Regions from separate parts of the Homo sapiens genome. Here region 1 is linked to region 2. The links come from fine-mapping of genetic effects on gene expression. A gene starts in region 2. The other region holds a variant in brackets. All regions are shown on one strand. Distances are between the middles of the regions. Region 1 overlaps TNK2 (tyrosine kinase non receptor 2). Region 2 holds the start of TNK2 (tyrosine kinase non receptor 2).

Region 1 (8,000 bases), 37 kb after region 2:
TGGGCCTGGGTGTGCATCTGTGGGTCTGTGTTTGGAGTTCCCTCCTAGCCTGGCCTTCTCTTCGCCGTGGCTTCCCACTTGCGAAGCTGTGTCCAGTATTTGTTTCCTGGTGCGGAGTCTGGGAGGCCACCTGCCGCAGCTCTGACTGAGTCTAGGCTCAGTCCTTCTCAGGGTACCAGGCTGTGGGCAGAGGGGAGACACCTAGATGTTTCGTGCTGTGTCTAGATTTGGAGACACAAATGATGACTGGTCTTTCCCAGGGGCTCGTTTGGAGGAAGGGGTGGCTGGCAGCACTTTTGTTCCGCATACAGAGCGGGTGTTGGAATCCATTGCGGGTCCTTGGCCTGGTCTGGCCCTGGAGCCTCGGCTTCCTGTGGTGGGTGGGAGCCAGGCATCCGGGTTATCCCTCCAGGCCTGGGCGCCTGGGACCCCTAGGGAGAAGAGCGGGCGGGCGTTTTGAACAGAATGTCCGGCATTAGTTGAGCCATTTCTGGACTACCTTCGGCCCGGACGGGAACGTGGTGCTGAGATTTCCAGAGCTGGGGCAGCCTTAGGCAGTTCTCAGCACCGGCCTCTGTTTTCCATCTTGTCTACCCCAGAGATGTTGACCAGAGGCCCGGGGGCAGCAGGAGGTAGAAGGTTCATGCGGAGGTGTTGGGCCCTTTTCCTGCTCCCCCAGGAAGTCCTCATCCGCCCCTGCTTCAGTCACGGCCGGGTAGCAGCCCTGGCCCTCCCATGGCCACGGGGACTCCGGCCTGTTCATGGCGGGAGAGAGAGGGCGCGGACAGGGCGGGCCTGGAAGGAAGGGCTGGCCTCAGTCCCCTCTGGACTGCTGGTGCCTCGGCCACACTGAGCCTCACACGGGTGCGTGTGGGCTGCGAGAAGTGACACGGTCCTCTTGGAAGTCCCACTGGAGCCTTGGGATGAAGCTGCCTTGGAGTGTGCGTGGGCGCCATCCCGAGGGGGAGCTTCCTGTGCCTCCGAGCGTGCGTGGGCGCCATCCCGAGGGGGAGCTTCTTGTGCCTCGGAGCGTGCGTGGGCGCCATCCCGAGGGGGAGTTTCTTGTGCCTCGGAGCGTGCGTGGGCGCCATCCCGAGGGGGAGTTTCTTGTGCCTCGGAGCGTGCGTGGGCGCCATCCCGAGGGGAGCTTCGTGTGCCTCGGAGCGTGCGTGGGCGCCATCCCGAGGGGAGCTTCCTGTGCCTCGGAGCGTGCGTGGGCGCCATCCCGAGGGGGAGTTTCTTGTGCCTCGGAGCGTGCGTGGGCGCCATCCCGAGGGGAGCTTCTTGTGCCTCGGAGTGTGCGTGGGCGCCATCCCGAGGGGAGCTTCTTGTGCCTCGGAGTGTGCGTGGGCGCCATCCCGAGGGGGAGCTTCCTGTGCCTCCGAGCGTGCGTGGGCGCCATCCCGAGGGGGAGTTTCTTGTGCCTCGGAGCGTGCGTGGGCGCCATCCCGAGGGGAGCTTCTTGTGCCTCGGAGTGTGCGTGGGCGCCATCCCGAGGGGAGCTTCTTGTGCCTCGGAGCGTGCGTGGGCGCCATCCCGAGGGGGAGTTTCTTGTGCCTCGGAGCGTGCGTGGGCGCCATCCCGAGGGGAGCTTCTTGTGCCTCGGAGTGTGCGTGGGCGCCATCCCGAGGGGAGCTTCCTGTGCCTCGGAGCGTGCGTGGGCGCCATCCCGAGGGGAGCTTCCTGTGCCTCGGAGCGTGCGTGGGCGCCATCCCGAGGGAGAGTTTCTTGTGCCTCGGAGCGTGCGTGGGCGCCATCCCGAGGGGAGCTTCTTGTGCCTCGGAGTGTGCGTGGGCGCCATCCCGAGGGGAGCTTCTTGTGCCTCGGAGTGTGCGTGGGCGCCATCCCGAGGGGGAGCTTCTTGTGCCTCGGAGCGTGCGTGGGCGCCATCCCGAGGGGGAGTTTCTTGTGCCTCGGAGTGTGCGTGGGCGCCATCCCGAGGGGAGCTTCTTGCACACGTCCTCCGCACTCTTACTCTCCTTCCCCCAGGAGCAAGCATGTTTTCTCGAGTGGTGTCAGGACTCCCAGCAGCCATGGGGGCTCTTGCCTCGGCCATACCTGCACTAAGGGAGGTGGGCTTGATGTCTCCTTTCCCTCTCAGAAGTGGGTCCCAAAGGAGGCTTCTGTGCCTGGAGCTGGGCAGTGTTGGCGGAAGGGAGAGGCCAGACGGAGTGACCTGCCTTGGGCACGAGTCACGCTGCTCTGAGCAAGGTCTCGGCCTCAGCGGCATTCTCACCCAGTTACTGAGCGCCTCTGAAGAGGTGTGGAGAGCAGAGTCCGGCGTCTGGCCCGCGGCAGCCACCGGGGAGCCCGTGGGTGTAGCGGGAGAGCCGCAGCCCAGCCGGTGCCGGGGTTCCTCCTCTACGGGCCGCCGTGGGAGGCTGTGTGCGTGCTGGGGAGCCGGGGCTCTGCTCCTTCGAGTGGCCCTGCTATTTTTCAGATGGGACTCGTCTCGTCTCGGGGTACTGTCCTCTCTCCTTCCTTCCCTCCCTGCAGGCAGGGTGGGAATCACAGGGTGGCTGTGTGTGGTGGGGCCAGGCCAGTGGCCCTGTGTATGAGGAGGCTGGGCAGGGGGAGCACAGCCCCGTCTCCCCGCGCCCCGCGCCCCCCGCCTCCCCGCCGACCGTGGTGCTCTCGGGTTTGACTTTGGTCTCTGGGATGGGCTGTTCCGGAGTCACCCCGCTCCAGCCAGGCCTCGTCACCTTACAAGGCTGTGGGTCTGGGTGCCCAGGCGTCGCCACCTCCTCCGTCCTCTCTCCCCGGCCTGGCTGGGTTTCAGAGGAGCCCTTCTTCACGCTTTGGCCCTGGGACAGGAGAAGTGGGGGTTGGTGGGGAGGGCGTGCAGTGTGGTGCCACACGTGTCCACCCTAGCAGCTCTGGGCTGTCACCGCCCCCGCGTGCCCAGACTCTGCCCACGGGGCTGTCACCGCCCCCGCCTGCCCAGACACTGCCCACGGGGCTCTCACCGCCCCCGCCTGCCCAGACACTGCCCACGGGGCTCTCACCGCCCCCGCCTGCCCAGACTCTGCTCACGGCATCACGTATGACAAGTCCAGCAGCAGACGCGGGAGCCTCACAACCTGTGAGAGCCTTCGGGAGTCAGGAGTGTCTTGCGGGAGCCCTGTGCTTCCTGGCCTGCCTGCCCCTGCCCCTGCCCCTGCCCCTGCCCAGGCCCCGGCTTAGGCCACATCAGCAGAGGTTTCGTGTCTGAGGTCAGAGGGGGACTGGCAGCCCTACTGTCTGGTCACTGTGGGAGAGCTGAGTTCCCTTTTGGACACAGGTAGAGCCCCTCCTGAGGAGACGGGGAGGCTCCCGCAGGCCTTCCGGGAGGTGGTGGAAAGCTCCGGAAGCAGGTGAAGCGGTGGAGGGAGGGACTGAGTTGCCCGAGTGCTCCTAGACTCTCCCGCGTCTGCATTCGGGAGGCAGGTTGTAGCTGGAGGCCTGGCCCCCAGCCTAGTGCAAGGCCCTAGGTGTCCCCCGGCACCCCCGCACCTCTCAGAACTCCTGGAACCCAGCCGAGGAGTGAAATCAAGTGGCCAGAAGAGGACTGGGGCCCCGGCCTTGCCAGGGAACTGAGGGGTGAGGAGGAGGTGTGGGCGGGGCGCTGGCCCCACAGACCTGAAAGCTGGCGTTGGGTCCCAGGTCTGCTGGGATCTTTCTGGTAACCGTGGACAGGTCATGTTGCCTGCTGCAGCAGCTTCCAGCGTGCCTCCTTATTTGCAAACCATAGGGAAAGCTGCCTGACCCACCTAGAGAGTTGTGGGTAAGGCCGTGTGCAAACAGGCCTGTACGGGGCATGGTGGGTCACGGGGGCTGTTGGGGAGGAGGGCCGGTGGCACACAGCCTGGTCCTGAGGCCTGAGCTCCATCCCCCTTCTGCCACAGTGGCCAGGGTGTGAGGAGGGTCCCAGTGCCGGGGCTGCCCCGCCACGCCTGGCGTTCACCGTGCCATCTCTGTCGCGCAGGGCCGAGAACTACTGGTGGCGTGGCCAGAACACACGGACGCTGTGTGTGGGGCCCTTCCCTCGCAACGTGGTGACCTCCGTGGCCGGCCTGTCGGCCCAGGACATCAGCCAGCCCCTGCAGAACAGCTTCATCCACACAGGGCATGGCGACAGTGACCCCCGCCACTGCTGGGGCTTCCCGGACAGGATTGACGAGTGAGTACTGGGCGGGGATGGATGCTGACCTGGCCCCGCTCGGGACTCCAGGGCCCTCAGC[A/G]CGGCACGCGTGGGCGGAATCTGCTCTTCACCCTTTCGCCCGGGCTTCAGCCCCCGACCCGCCACTCTCCCCTCCTCACCCTGGCCTTACTCTCGGGAAGCTGTGGAACCCTAGGAAGCCCAGCCTGGTGGGGGTTCTCCAGGGGAATGTTCTCCAGGGGAGTGTTCTCCAGGGGAGGGTTCTCCAGGGGAGGGTTCTCCAGGGGAATGTTCTCCAGGGGAGGGTTCTCCAGGGGAGGGTTCTCCAGGGGAGGGTTCTCCAGGGGAATGTTCTCCAGGGGAGGGTTCTCCAGGGGAGGGTTCTCCGGGGAGCGTTCTCCAGGGGAATGCTGTCCCTGCCATTTTCAAGCTTTGGGGGGCCGATCTCCTAACTCTGAGACACTTCATCTGTGAAACAGGTTCACCCCCCCAATAAGGGGAAGGCTGTAAATGCACTCTGAATTAGCACTTGCTGCTCAGATGCAGGGGTCCTGAGAGAAGCTTTCCCACTCACTGTAGATGAAAGTAGGGTCAGGAGCTTCTGAGGATGGACTCCTGTTTGGTGGAAAGGTCCCCGGAGCCACAGCTGTAACCCCTCTTGGTACTCGGGCCTTAGGAAAATGAACTTGGGAGGAACCCGGTGGGAGCTGCTGAGGAGGAGAGCTTCTCCCATGACCCCCCTGTGGCCCCCTGTGACCCTGTGACCCTGTGACCCCTGCACACGAGCAGTGGTTTTCCTTCTCCTGCTGGTGGTGCCAGAGTCCTGGAGACGTGAACCTGCTGGCTCAGGCCCTGGGGATGTATGCAGGTCCACATGGGAGTGAGCCTGCTTTCCAGAACCAGAGTGGGACTGGGGACCTTGGGGACTGCAGAGGGAACGTTAGGTGGCAGCTCCGCCTCCCCACCACACAGTACTCTACGGAGCTCACTCCATACCTGGGAGAGGCCCTGTCTCCTATGTAAGAGGATAAGGCCACCGAGGGGCATCTGGGAAGGACACGCAGAATCAGTCACTTCCGGGATGCCACCCCCCACCCCCCGAAGCTTCTTGCGCCAGGCCTCCAAGCCTCTCTGCTGGCCGCAGGGGGATTCCAGGCCCCTGGCCTCTGCAGCCCTTCTCCTGCTGACTTCTGATACTCTGGTCTGCCCTGAGAGGCGTGGAAAGCAGGGGCCTTCACCCACCGGGCCCCACACACCAGAACCCCACACAGCGGGCCCCCACACACCAGAACCCACACAGCGGGCCCCCACACACCAGAACCCCACACAGCGAGTCCCCCCACACCAGAACCCACACAGCGGGCCCCCACACACCAGAACCCACACAGCGGGCCCACACACACTGGAACCCCAAGCTCACAGGGCTCAGCCCATGTGTTTTGCCTAAAAAGAACCCAGCAAGGGCCTGAGAGTTGGGGTGAAAGACTGCAGACACCTCCAGGAGAGGCTGGTGCCCTCTGCCCCACTCCTGGCATGCTGTGGCCAGCCCAGCCCCATTCCTCCAGGCTTTAATCAGCCCCAGTGACTAAGTCTCAGATACTGACAGTTGGTGCAGGGACGGAGGGTGGATCCGGAGCAGGACAGGTGGCCCAGCCTCTCCCGCACCTCCTGGCCATGTGGCAGAAGGGTGCCTCCTGCCCACCCTGGCTGGGCACCATAGCTGGGATGCCCCGTTCTTAGGCCCTCCATCGTGGCCTGCGGGACAGGAGTGTCTGCCCTCTGGCCGCTGCCTGGTGTGGGCTGGGGGCCTGGGGGGTTGTGGAGGACCACCTCTGCCCTTGTAGGGTGTAGTTGGAGTCCCTGAGGTCCTAGGCTTTCCATCCTGGGGTCAGGTGTCCTTTCTCTGCCTTCTCTCCAGGACACCCCCCAGCTGAGACGTGCGGTCAGGTTCTGTGGACTGGGAGGCGGGAGGCCTGTGCTTCAGACCCAAGACTACACCCGGTTTCCTCCAGGACGAAGGGGCTCTGATGAGATTCTGCCACCCCTCCACACGCTTCCCCTGCTCTCTTGACCCAGCTCTCTCCCCCACAGACTGTATCTGGGAAACCCCATGGACCCCCCCGACCTCCTGAGCGTGGAACTGAGCACCTCCCGGCCCCCCCAGCATCTAGGAGGGGTGAAAAGTAAGAGCCCCTCTGCTCCCTGGTGTCCCTAACTCATCGGCTACTCAGGAAGGGGCACTGTCTTCACAGGCCACCCTAAGGCTGCTGTTCTGTTTTTGGGGACAGTGGGGTCAGGGCAGCAGGCGGGACAGCTGTGTCCCTGGCTCCGGCTGGGCGTGGGGTGGAAGACAGGCAGCTGTATCCGCCGAGGTGGGCCTCCTCGGGCTGGGTCTGCAGCAGGCCCGTCCGCCCCGGCGTCCCTCCTCCCTCCTTCCACGGCCGAGCTCAGATCCTGGCTTTCCTCACTTCCCCCTAATCCTGCTCTCCTGTCCCAAGCCAAAACCACCCCACGGCTCCGGCTCTGCCTGGGGCCTCCTCCATCTCCCGGTCCTCTGCCTATCATACTGGACCGCCGTGTTCCTCATCCTGCCGCCTGCGGCCTCCCGTTTGCTGGGGGCTTGTACATTCACTCGCCCCCATTCACTTCTCTCCCTTCGTCTCTCTACACTCTGCCCTCTCGTCCGGCCGTCTCCCTCCTTTGTCCTCTGTCCTGCTCCGTCTCTCTCCCCCTGTCCGCATGGCCTTTCTTGCAGGGGAGCCTCCACCTCGCCCACCTCAGCCTGCCTTCTTCACTCAGAGTAAGTGGGGCTGCTTCCGATGCCTTGGCCCCCGCCCCCGCCCCCTCTCTCTCACTCCTCTCCTGGAAGGTACAGAGCCTGGGCGGCTGGGCCGGAGGGGAGGTGGGTGGGTGTGTGCTGTGAGCTTCCGCGGCTGCCCTGGCCTAGCATGCCTGCCCCCCCTCGAGCCCGCCCCCCGGAGCCTGGGCTTCTGCTCACGAGTGTGGCCCTGGCTTCCGCCTCGGCCTCACTCCCTCCCAGACCTGTCTGAGCTTCTGGAGCACGAGTGTGGCCCTGGCTTCTGCCTTGGCCTCGCTGCCTCCCAGACCTGCAGGCGCTGTCTGGGCTTTGTGGCCGTTGGTCAGGAGTACTGTCCTCTCCAAGGATAGTCCTTATAGCCCCTGATGGCAGGAGGCGGCTCCGTGCCTGCACTAATGGTGTGCCGTGACAGGGGCGGGGATGAGGGCTCACTAACTCGCCAGGGCGCAGGAGCAGGGCCGCCGGGGTCTTGTGCTGGTGGAGGCAGCGTCAGGCAGGAGCCAGTGTTGCTTGCTGCAGCTTAGACGGAGCGAGGCGGGGCTCACCGGCCCACATGGGGCTGCCGGGCAGAGCAGGTTCCGCCCTCCTGATGGAGTGGTCGGAGGTGCGCTGAGAACCTGGCCGCCGGTGGCTGACCTCAGACCTCGGGGGGAGTTGGGAGTGGAGGGTTGCTGGGGGACACTTGGCTTTCTCTCCCACGTGCCACCTCCCCTCGTGTCCCAGACCCTGCCTGACTGCCTTCCTGTTGGGCTCTCCCTTTCCATCACAGAACCAACCTATGACCCTGTGAGCGAGGACCAAGACCCCTTGTCCAGCGACTTCAAGAGGCTGGGCCTGCGGAAGCCAGGCCTGCCCCGAGGGCTGTGGCTGGCGAAGCCCTCGGCGCGGGTGCCGGGCACCAAGGCCAGCCGAGGCAGCGGGGCTGAGGTCACGCTCATCGACTTCGGTGAGGAGCCCGTGGTCCCGGCCCTACGGCCCTGCGCGCCCTCCCTGGCGCAGCTGGCCATGGACGCCTGCTCCCTGCTGGACGAGACCCCGCCTCAG
Region 2 (8,652 bases):
AGCTGCCTGTGTCTAGAAGCCCCGGTTGTTGGGAGGTTTCTATTCTAGGAGGAGGGCAAGGGGATCAGAAAGTTAAAAGTAAACCATGTATATAAAGGGCACGCTAAAAGATATTTATTAAAATCTTTTTTTTTAAATTACATTTTTAGGGTAGGGTTCTGGGGTGCTGGTTATGTTCCATTTCTTGATCTGGGTGCTGGGTGTATTACCTGTAAGAATGCAAGCTTTCAGCACTTCTCTGGAGGTATGCTGTACGTCAATAAAAAGTTCAAAAATTACATTGTGATATTTTCTTTCTTTCTTTCTTTCTTTCTTTTTTTTTTTTTGAGAGAGACAGAGTCTTGCTCTGTCGCCCAGTCTGGAATGCAGTGGCGTGATCTCAGCTCCCTGCAACCTCCGCCTCCCAGGTTCAAGCGATTGTCCTGTCTCAGCCTCCCAAGTAGCTGAGATTACAGGCGTGCACCATCATGCCCGGCTAATTTTGTATTTTTAGTAGAGACGGGGTTTCGTCATGTTGGTCAGGCTGGTCTCGAACTCCTGACCTCAGGTGATCCACCTGCCTCGGCCTCCCAAACTGCTGGGATTACAGGTGTGAGCCACCGCACCCGGCCAAACATTCTCATATTTTCTATTCTATTATTATCCTCTTTCATAAAACAAAAAAATAGTCATTCAAAATCCACCATATTCAGTTTACCTCCCTCTAAAAGGTTGCAACAGTAGTTTTAAAAACTGCTTTATTTAAAAACAAGCTGTACGCAGTGGCTCAGGCCTATAATCCTGGCACTTTGGGAGGCCGAGATGAGTGGATTGCTTGAGGCCAGGAGTTCAAAACCAGCCTGGGTAACAGGACGAAACCCCGTCTCTACTAAAAATACAAAAAATTAGCTGGGCGTGGTGGCGGGTGCCTGTAATCCCAACTATTAGGGAGGCTGAGGCCGGAGAATCGCTTGAACCCGGGAGGCAGAGGTTGCGGTGAGCCGAGATTGCACCACTGCACTCCAGCCTGGGCAACAAGCACGAAACTCCATCTCAAAAAAATAAAAAAATAAAAACAAACAAACTAGAAGCCCAATCCCTCAGCAGCACCCACCCACTCTTGGCTTAGCAGCTGCCTGCAGGTGTGAGCCAGGCGGCCCATTCCCCAGCAATGGCCTTCCTTGCCCTCTTGCTTACCTCACAGTGCAAAACAGCTCATGAAGGAGACTCTTAAGGGCACCACCCAAAGCCTCCCTCTGGCAGCCTGGCCCACCTCCACTCCCAGCTAGACCCGACAAGCCCTTCTCCTTGCCGAGTCATTCTGCTGTGGGCAGCTCTCCTAAAGTTCCAGATGTAGGAGGAGACTGGCTCAGGCACGTTAATTAGAGGGTTGGGGTTATCCCTGTGGCCACCTCCCAAATCTCCTGAGACTTATGTTTTTAGTCTGGGGCTCCTTCCTCATGTCAGCTCCCTAGTGGCAGAGCAGTCTCCCTCGGTGTCTCTCTGGCCACCATGATCAGTGTCACGGACACATCCCAGCATAGCCCCAGTTCTCAACCGCATGGCAGGGACCGTCCAGGAGTTGGTGAGGAACAGGGTGGGAGGGAGGAAGGGAGCAGGAGACCTCACTCTTTCCTTTGAACCTAAAGCTCCAGATAATCCTACACTAGAGGTGCATATGGGGCATGGCTCTGGCTTCTTGAGGGAAACTGGAGAGATGGGGGGCTGGGGAAATGGGGGGCTGTGCTGCCCTAGGAGCAGGACCAACCAGCGTGGAGGCGCTTTGACCTCTAGCTTTGTTTGATTTGGAGCTTGATTTACTGGAGGGGAAGTTTGCTCTAAATCAGTTGTTTGCATCTATTGACCAATAAAATCTAGTTAGTCCTGATGCTTCCTGAAGCAGGGCCCCTGGATTTGGCGTTGCTTTTTTGTGCCTCAGATTTTTTTTTTTTTTGAGGCAAGGTCTGGCTCTATTGCCCAGGCAGGAGTGCAGTGGTGTGGTCTCTACTCAGTGCAACCTCCACCTCCCAGGCTCAAGCGATCCTCCCCCCTCGGCCTCCCGAGTAGCTGGGATTACAGGTGCGTGCCACCATGCTCTGCTAATTTTTCTATTTTTTTTGTAGAGACAGGGTTTTGCCGTGTTGCCCAGGCTGGTCCTGAACTTGGGAGCTCAAATGATTTGCCCTCCTCAGCCTCCAAAGTGCTGTGATTACAGGCATGAGTCACCACACTCGGTCTGTGCCTTAGACTTTAGAGTCGGAAAGCTGGATTTGAATCCTGGCTTCACTACTACCAGCTGTATGGCACTGAACAAGTCACTTGGCCATGTAGAACCTCAGTTCTGCCACGTGTAAAATGGGGATATTATGTGTCTCCTTGGGTTGTCATGGGGTTGGATGAGAAGAATGCGAAGTGCAGGGCCTTGCACAGTTGGGCTCTGTGAGTCTTAGCAATGGCCATGACTGAGGCAGCGTGAGGGAGACTGGGAGAAAACCTCCTCAGTTTCCTTCTCCCAAATCTGTTGTCTTCCCCACTTTCTTTCCTGAAGCCAGGCGACAGGGGGGTGGTCCTGGCCCAGCCTCCTGGCTCCCTGGGGAAGGGCTGCCATTACTGGCAGTGTTAGATAATTTAGTAGAAAGTTGCCCTGCCCACCTCGCAGGCAAGGGACCGCCACCCAAATCCACCCAGACTGGGCCTCGTGTAGGTTTCCAGAAGCCACCCCTTTCTCATTGCCCTACTGCGCTCTGGCCAAGTCCCTGGGGCCCATTGCTGGACAGTGTGAGCGCAGAAAGAGCCAGCCCTACACAGTTTCCGATGTGTCTGATCTTGCCACCTACCGTGAACTGTTTTGTTATTACATCCATTTTCTAGATGAGGGACAGTAACAAGGGCTGAGTGGCCCTGAGCCCTTGGGCTCCACGCGCCCGCTGCCCAGGGCTGCCTCCGTTTGGGCTGGGACATGGGTCTGTGGGCTGGGAACAGGGCCTGCAGGCTGCCCCGCCGCTGGGAATCCGAGCGCTGGGTTTTCTCCTTCTGGGGTGGGGGCAGGGAGGAGACGGCTCAAGTGCAGGAATGAAGGTCCGCTTGCCTGGGGCTGTTTCTGCCCAAGTCCTCATCAGGAATCGTCAGGCCTGAGACAAACCCTCCCTCCTTCAGGAGTGCTCCGTTGGCCCCGGGGAAAGAGAGGTGATGGTCCGGGTTTCTGGGCCTTTGGGGTGCCACGGTGAGATTGGGACTAGAACCCCAGCCTCACTGGAGTGACCCCAGAAACCTTCCAGTCCAACCTCCTCACTTCAACTGAGGTTGGAACAACTGAGACCGGGTGGAAGTGACTTTTACACTCGCACAGTGCAACGGTAGCTACTCGGAATGAGAGACCTGTTCCGGCGCTCCTCCATTGCGCCCCTCGACTCGGCGGGACTTCTTCACCCAGGGCGCCACCGCTCCTCGGCACCGCAGGAAGGCGCAGGCCGGGCCCGGGGGAGTCGGGGAGAGCGGGGTAGGGCCCCGGAGGCTGGGGGAGGAGCCGGGGGAGGAGCGATGAGGCCGGGCCCTTTAAGAGGGCGGGCCGACTCCCCCCCACCCCCCACCCCGGGGCGGCGCAGGCGCAGGCGCAGGCGGGCTCGGGGCGCTCGGCAGGAGGGACGGCGGGCGGGCGCTCACCTGCGGGGGCCGGCGCGGGGCGGGCGCCCGGCGGGCCGACGTTGACGCCCGGAGGCGAGGGCGGGGAGGCGGGCGCGGGACTCGGGGGCGGCCCGGGGCGGGAGGGGAGGGCCGGGGCGGGCGGGCGGTGTGAGCGGGCGCCGAGGGCAGCACCATCTGGAGGGGTGGGAGCGCGCGGCCTCTGGGGGGCAAGCGAGTGCGCTGGGCCGAGCCGGTCGGGGGCCCCCGGCGGGTCGCGCAGGAGGAGCGCGGCGGGCTGAGCCCTGCGCTGCCGGAGCAGCAGCCGCAGCGCGTAGGGGTTCTCAGCTGGGGCCCGCAGCAGCTCCGCGGGCTGAAGCTCGGCGTGGAGGAGCGGGGCGGGGTGGGCCCGGCGGTGCAGGAGGAGGGCGGGGTGGGCCCGGGGCTGCAGGAGCGCGGCGGCCGCGGCCACGAGCCCAGCCGGGGGGTGGTGTGGGGGCCGCCGGACGGCGCGGGCTGGGGGCGCCCGCCGTGGTGGACGGGCTCGGCGGGCTGGCCTGTGGCGCAGGAGGAGGGGCTGGGGCCCCGCGGGCAGCACCAGGAGAAGGGCGGAGGCAGCCCCGCAGTGCAGGAGCGCGGCGAGGCCCGGGCCGGGGTGCAGGAGCGCGGGGAGGGGAGCCCGCGGAGGCTGCTGCAGCAGCCCGAACCGGCGTCCGAGTCCGGGGAAGGCCCCCGCGAGCGCAGGGAGGGGCCGGAAAGTTCCGGCGAACTGGGGGAGCGGCAGTGGGAGAGCGTCGGGCGGGAGGCGGTGGTCCTGGGAGCGGCCCCGGCGCCCCGAAGCCGCCCCGAGCTGGTGGGGAGGGCCCGGCCGGTGGGGCCCCGGGGGCCTGCGGGGGAGGGGCGCCTGGGGGTGCAAGAGGCGAATTGGCTGCCCGGGGTGCAGGAGGGACAGGTGGTGCGGGCTGTCCAGGAAACCTACCTGAACGGGAAGGAGCCCCAGGAGGGAGAGGGACCCGGCGAGGGGCTCAGGACCCGGAGGCGCCGGCGGAGGAGGAGGTGGTGACTGGCAGGCCCGGGCCCCACGGTACCTCCGGGGCTGAAGGGGACGCAGGATGTAGGGGCATGGGGAGTCGGGCGCAGAAGAGTGCGGGGAACCGCTGAGCTCTGGGAGCCACTGCCTGAGGGCAGGCCGCGGCCGGCGGGAACCTCTTCTGCCGTCTCAGCCTGGGCGTCGCTGAAGCTGTGTCTGCGGGGAGGCAGCGGAAGGCGGCAGGTAAGGAAGCCCAGTCCTGTTAGCTGGAGTTGGTGTGCTTGGAAGTGAGAGGCTGCAGGTCCCTGGCGAGAGCGTAGACTCCACACTGCCCTCGTTCTTTTGGCCTTTCATCCCTGGAGGGAGGAAGCAGTGCAGTTTTCAGCGGCAAGGCAGGACCTCTCCCCCGCCAGTACTGTGTATGGTAATTGGAGTGATAGGGCATCTTCTTAGAGTCTAGGCAGCAGGCGGGACGTCTGGGTGGCTGCCAGGTCTGTGCAGAGGGAAGAGAGGGGTAGCCCCAGGGAGGAGCTGCAGGACGGTCCCCCCTCCACCTGCCCCCCGATGGCAGTAGGGGTGCCTCCATGCTATATGCTCTGCATGGTGCAGTCAACACACAAGTCCTCAAAACACGTCCCACAGAAGGGAAGAGGGCAGCGTGGGATTAACAGAACCTTATCTTGTAACCCTGTTGGTCACGTGAGCTGAGATGAGTGTGACAGCTAGTGGCTTGGGTACGGCACGAGCCTGGCCCGCTTCTGCCACGCCGTCCTGTCACAGCTGATTTACCCTGAGGGCCCAGAGCCAAGGATGATTAGTGGGCGGAAGGAGGGAGAGCAACTGGTGAGCCCTCTCGTCTCTGGGTGGGACGACCCAGCGTTAGAGGGGCGGGAGAGGAGGGTGCACTTGCACCCCAGGGCTCTGGGCTGCCTCTGTGGCCCCACCCTGGGGAGGTTTGCAGATGGGCCGCTGTGGTATCATGGGCTCTGCACCTGTCAGGACAGGAGCTCCCAGCCCAGTCTAGAGGTAGGGCTTGTAGGGGCCAAGGGTGGGGGCTGTATTTGGCTTGTTGACTCCCTCGTGGCCTGAGTGCCAGACCTACTCATTCCGCCTCGTGCCCCCAGGGGGCTTGGCGGGCTGCTTGTGGGCCTTACTCTCCTAGAGCTGTTCGCCTCTTACCTGGCACTGTCAGGTGCTTGCTTCCCCTGCCCCTGGGTGGGGATGGGTGCAGGGTTGCTGCTTGCCCAGGGCCTTAGCTAGAGGACCCTCCTCTGCCCCAGCCCGAGGTGTGGCTGTGAGTCAGATGGACCCAGACCCCTGTCCCGAACCAGACTGGGTGCTCTCCTCTGGGGGCAGAGGGAGTGGTGCTGGAGGTAGCAGCTGCTGGAGGAGCCGGTTAGCCCGCTCCTCAGACAAACTCAAACCCGCCTGTCAGCTTCATCCCATGCCTGTCGCGCTGCCACCCAAACACTCATGCACCGGAAGTTCAGCTGCTGTGCCCACGGTGCCTGACGCTTCTGGAATGGCCAGAGTGGCTCTCACTGTCTGGCTTCAGTGGAGAGAACGGTCTGTTTTAAACACATACACACAATCTTCACCTACTTATTTCAGGTCGGCGTTTTTGAACTTGTGGTAGATGAATGGGAGAAAGGCCTTGGCATCACACAGATTGCTTTTGATCTGGTTATATCGCTTACAAGCTGTGTAACTTCCTTGGGCAACATAATGTCTTTAGGTTTCAGTTTCTTGGTGTCTGCGGTGGGCCAGGACTTCCCCTGCAGTGTCGTGAGTAAAGAAACCTCAGGCCCTTTGGAGCCTGGTGCCCACCTCCCCGGAGCCCCGGCAGATGTTAGGGAGGAAGGGTCAGACTGTTCCCTCTGGCCCCTGAGCCCGGGATTAGCCCCCACCTTGTGCTTCGTCTAGAAGATGCAGTGTTTCTTTTTGTTTGTTTTAAATAACAGTTTTATTGAGATATAATGACATATGGTAAACTGAGCATATTTAAAACACACAATTTAATAAGTTGTGGCCTGTGTATATACCCGTGAAACCACCCCCACCTTCAAGATAGTGAACATCCCCCTTATTCCCCTGTCCCCAGAAGTTTTCTTGTGGAACCCCTCCATCCCCCGCTCCTCTGCCATCCCCTACCCCAGGTAACAGGCTGGTCTACTTTCTGTCACTGTGTCTGAGTTTGCAGCATTTACTGTAAACGGAATCGCGTCTTTCATTCAACAGAAGTATTTTGGAGTTTGTCCAGGTGGTTGCGCGTATCAACAGTCATTGTACACGTGTGCCAAAGTCTGTTTATCCATTGACCTGTTGATGGGTTTTCAGAGAAAGCTGCTGTGAACGTGTTTGTTAGTCTTTGTGTGGATGTACACTTTTATTTATCTTAGGTAAATCCCTAGGACCGGAATGGCTGGGTCATGTGGTAGGTACACATTTAACCTTTAAGAAACTGCCAGACTGTTTTCCAAAGTGGTTGTACATTTTATATACTCATCCACTGTGTATGAGAGTTCTGGTTTGTCCATGTCTTTGATATGTCCACATCTCGATGTGGTCAGTCTCTAATTTTAGACACTCTCATGTCTGTAGTGGTATCTCATTACAATTTTAATTTGTATTTCCTTAATGACTCATGTTGTCGGGCATCTTCTCATGTGCTCATTTGCCATACGTATGTCTTTGGTGCTGTGTCTGTTCAGATCGTTTGCCCATTTTTAATTGTGTAGGGTTTTTCGTGTTGAGTTCTGAAGAGTTCTTGATATATTCTGGATATAAGCCTTTTATCAGGTATGTGATTTACAAATCTTTTTTCCAGCTTGTGGCTTTGTATTTTGATCCTCTTAACAATGTCTTCTAAAAAATTCTCATGATCAGTAGTGCAAAATGCTGTGTTTTTGAAGAGAAGTTGTAAATTTTGATTAATTTACTAATTTGTTACTTTGTGGATTGCATTTTTGGTGTCATGTCCAAGAAATCTTTGCCTGACCCAAAGTCCCAACAGTTTTCCCCTGTATTTTCTTGTAGACATTTTATAGTTTTGGGCTTTACATTGAGATCTAGGATTCGTTTGGGGTTAATTTTTGTTACGTGGTGCAAGGTATGAATCAATGTCCAGTTTTTTGCATGTAGAGATCTAATTGATCTAGTAGCACCATTTATTAAAAAGATGTATCTCTCCACTGAATTGCCTTTGAATCTTTGTCAAAAATCAATTGCTGGCTGGGCACGGTGGCTCACTCCTCTAATCCCAGTGCTTTGGGAGGCTGAGGCGGGCGGATCATGAGGTCAGGAGTTCAAGGCCAAGCTGGTGAACGTAGTGGAACCCTGTCTCTACTAAAAATACAAAAAATTAGCCAGGCGTGGTGGCGGGCACCTGTAATCCCAGCTACTCAGGAGGCTGAGTCAGGAGAATCGCATGAACCCGGGAGGCGGAGGTTGCAGTGAGCCAAGATTGCGCCACTGCATTCCAGCCCGGGCGACAGTGTGAGACTCCATCTCAAAAAGAAAAAGAAAAAAATCAATTGTTTGTGTGTGTCTAATTCTGGATTCTGTTTTGTTCCATTGATCTATTTGTCTGTCTTTATCCCAGTATCACACTATCTTGATTACTGTGGGTTTATAAACTATAGTAAGTCTTGAAATCAGGGTAAGATCTCAAACTTGGTTTTGTCTTTTCAAAATTGCTTTAGCTATTCTGGGTTCTTTGCACTTCCATATACATTTTAGAATTAGTTAGTCAATTTCTACAAAAAAGCCTGCTGGGATTTTGATTGGGATTATGATCAATTTGGGGAGAATTGATCGGTTAGCAGTATTGAGCCTTCTGACCATGAACAGTGTATATCTCTGTATTTGTCTAGGTTTTGTTTACTATCTCTCAGCAGTGTTTTGTAGTTTTTGGTATATCAGTCTTTTCCATCTTTTATTGAACATATCCTTAAATAGTACCTATTTTTATGCTATTGTAAATGATACTGGTTTTTCCTGGTAGTATTGGTTTTTTATTTTTA

What was found.
Region 1: its variant is fine-mapped to the expression of TNK2 in testis (GTEx, PIP 0.99). The same link has a PIP of 0.9 or more in fibroblasts.

Annotation. Positions count from the first base shown.
Region 1 is chr3:195,868,435-195,876,434 of GRCh38, reverse strand. It overlaps TNK2 (tyrosine kinase non receptor 2), which reads left to right. Exons shown (of 16, transcript NM_001382273.1): 10 at 3,965-4,159; 11 at 6,230-6,321; 12 at 6,894-6,938; 13 at 7,726-8,000. Among named protein-coding and RNA genes, the nearest start is that of MIR6829, 10 kb to the left of the region's middle. The variant A/G (reference allele first, on the strand shown) is at 4,221.
Region 2 is chr3:195,904,706-195,913,357 of GRCh38, reverse strand. It overlaps TNK2 (tyrosine kinase non receptor 2), which reads left to right and starts at 4,807. Exons shown (of 16, transcript NM_001382273.1): 1 at 4,807-4,873. TNK2-AS1 (TNK2 antisense RNA 1) reads right to left here and starts at 5,282. Exons shown (of 2, transcript NR_145450.1): 1 at 4,580-5,282; 2 at 94-3,493. LOC124906253 (keratinocyte proline-rich protein-like) reads left to right here. Exons shown (of 4, transcript NR_197446.1): 4 at 1-278. RefSeq lists enhancers at 3,224-3,273, 6,264-6,493, 6,544-6,593 and silencers at 3,404-4,053, 4,104-4,293, 4,344-4,593.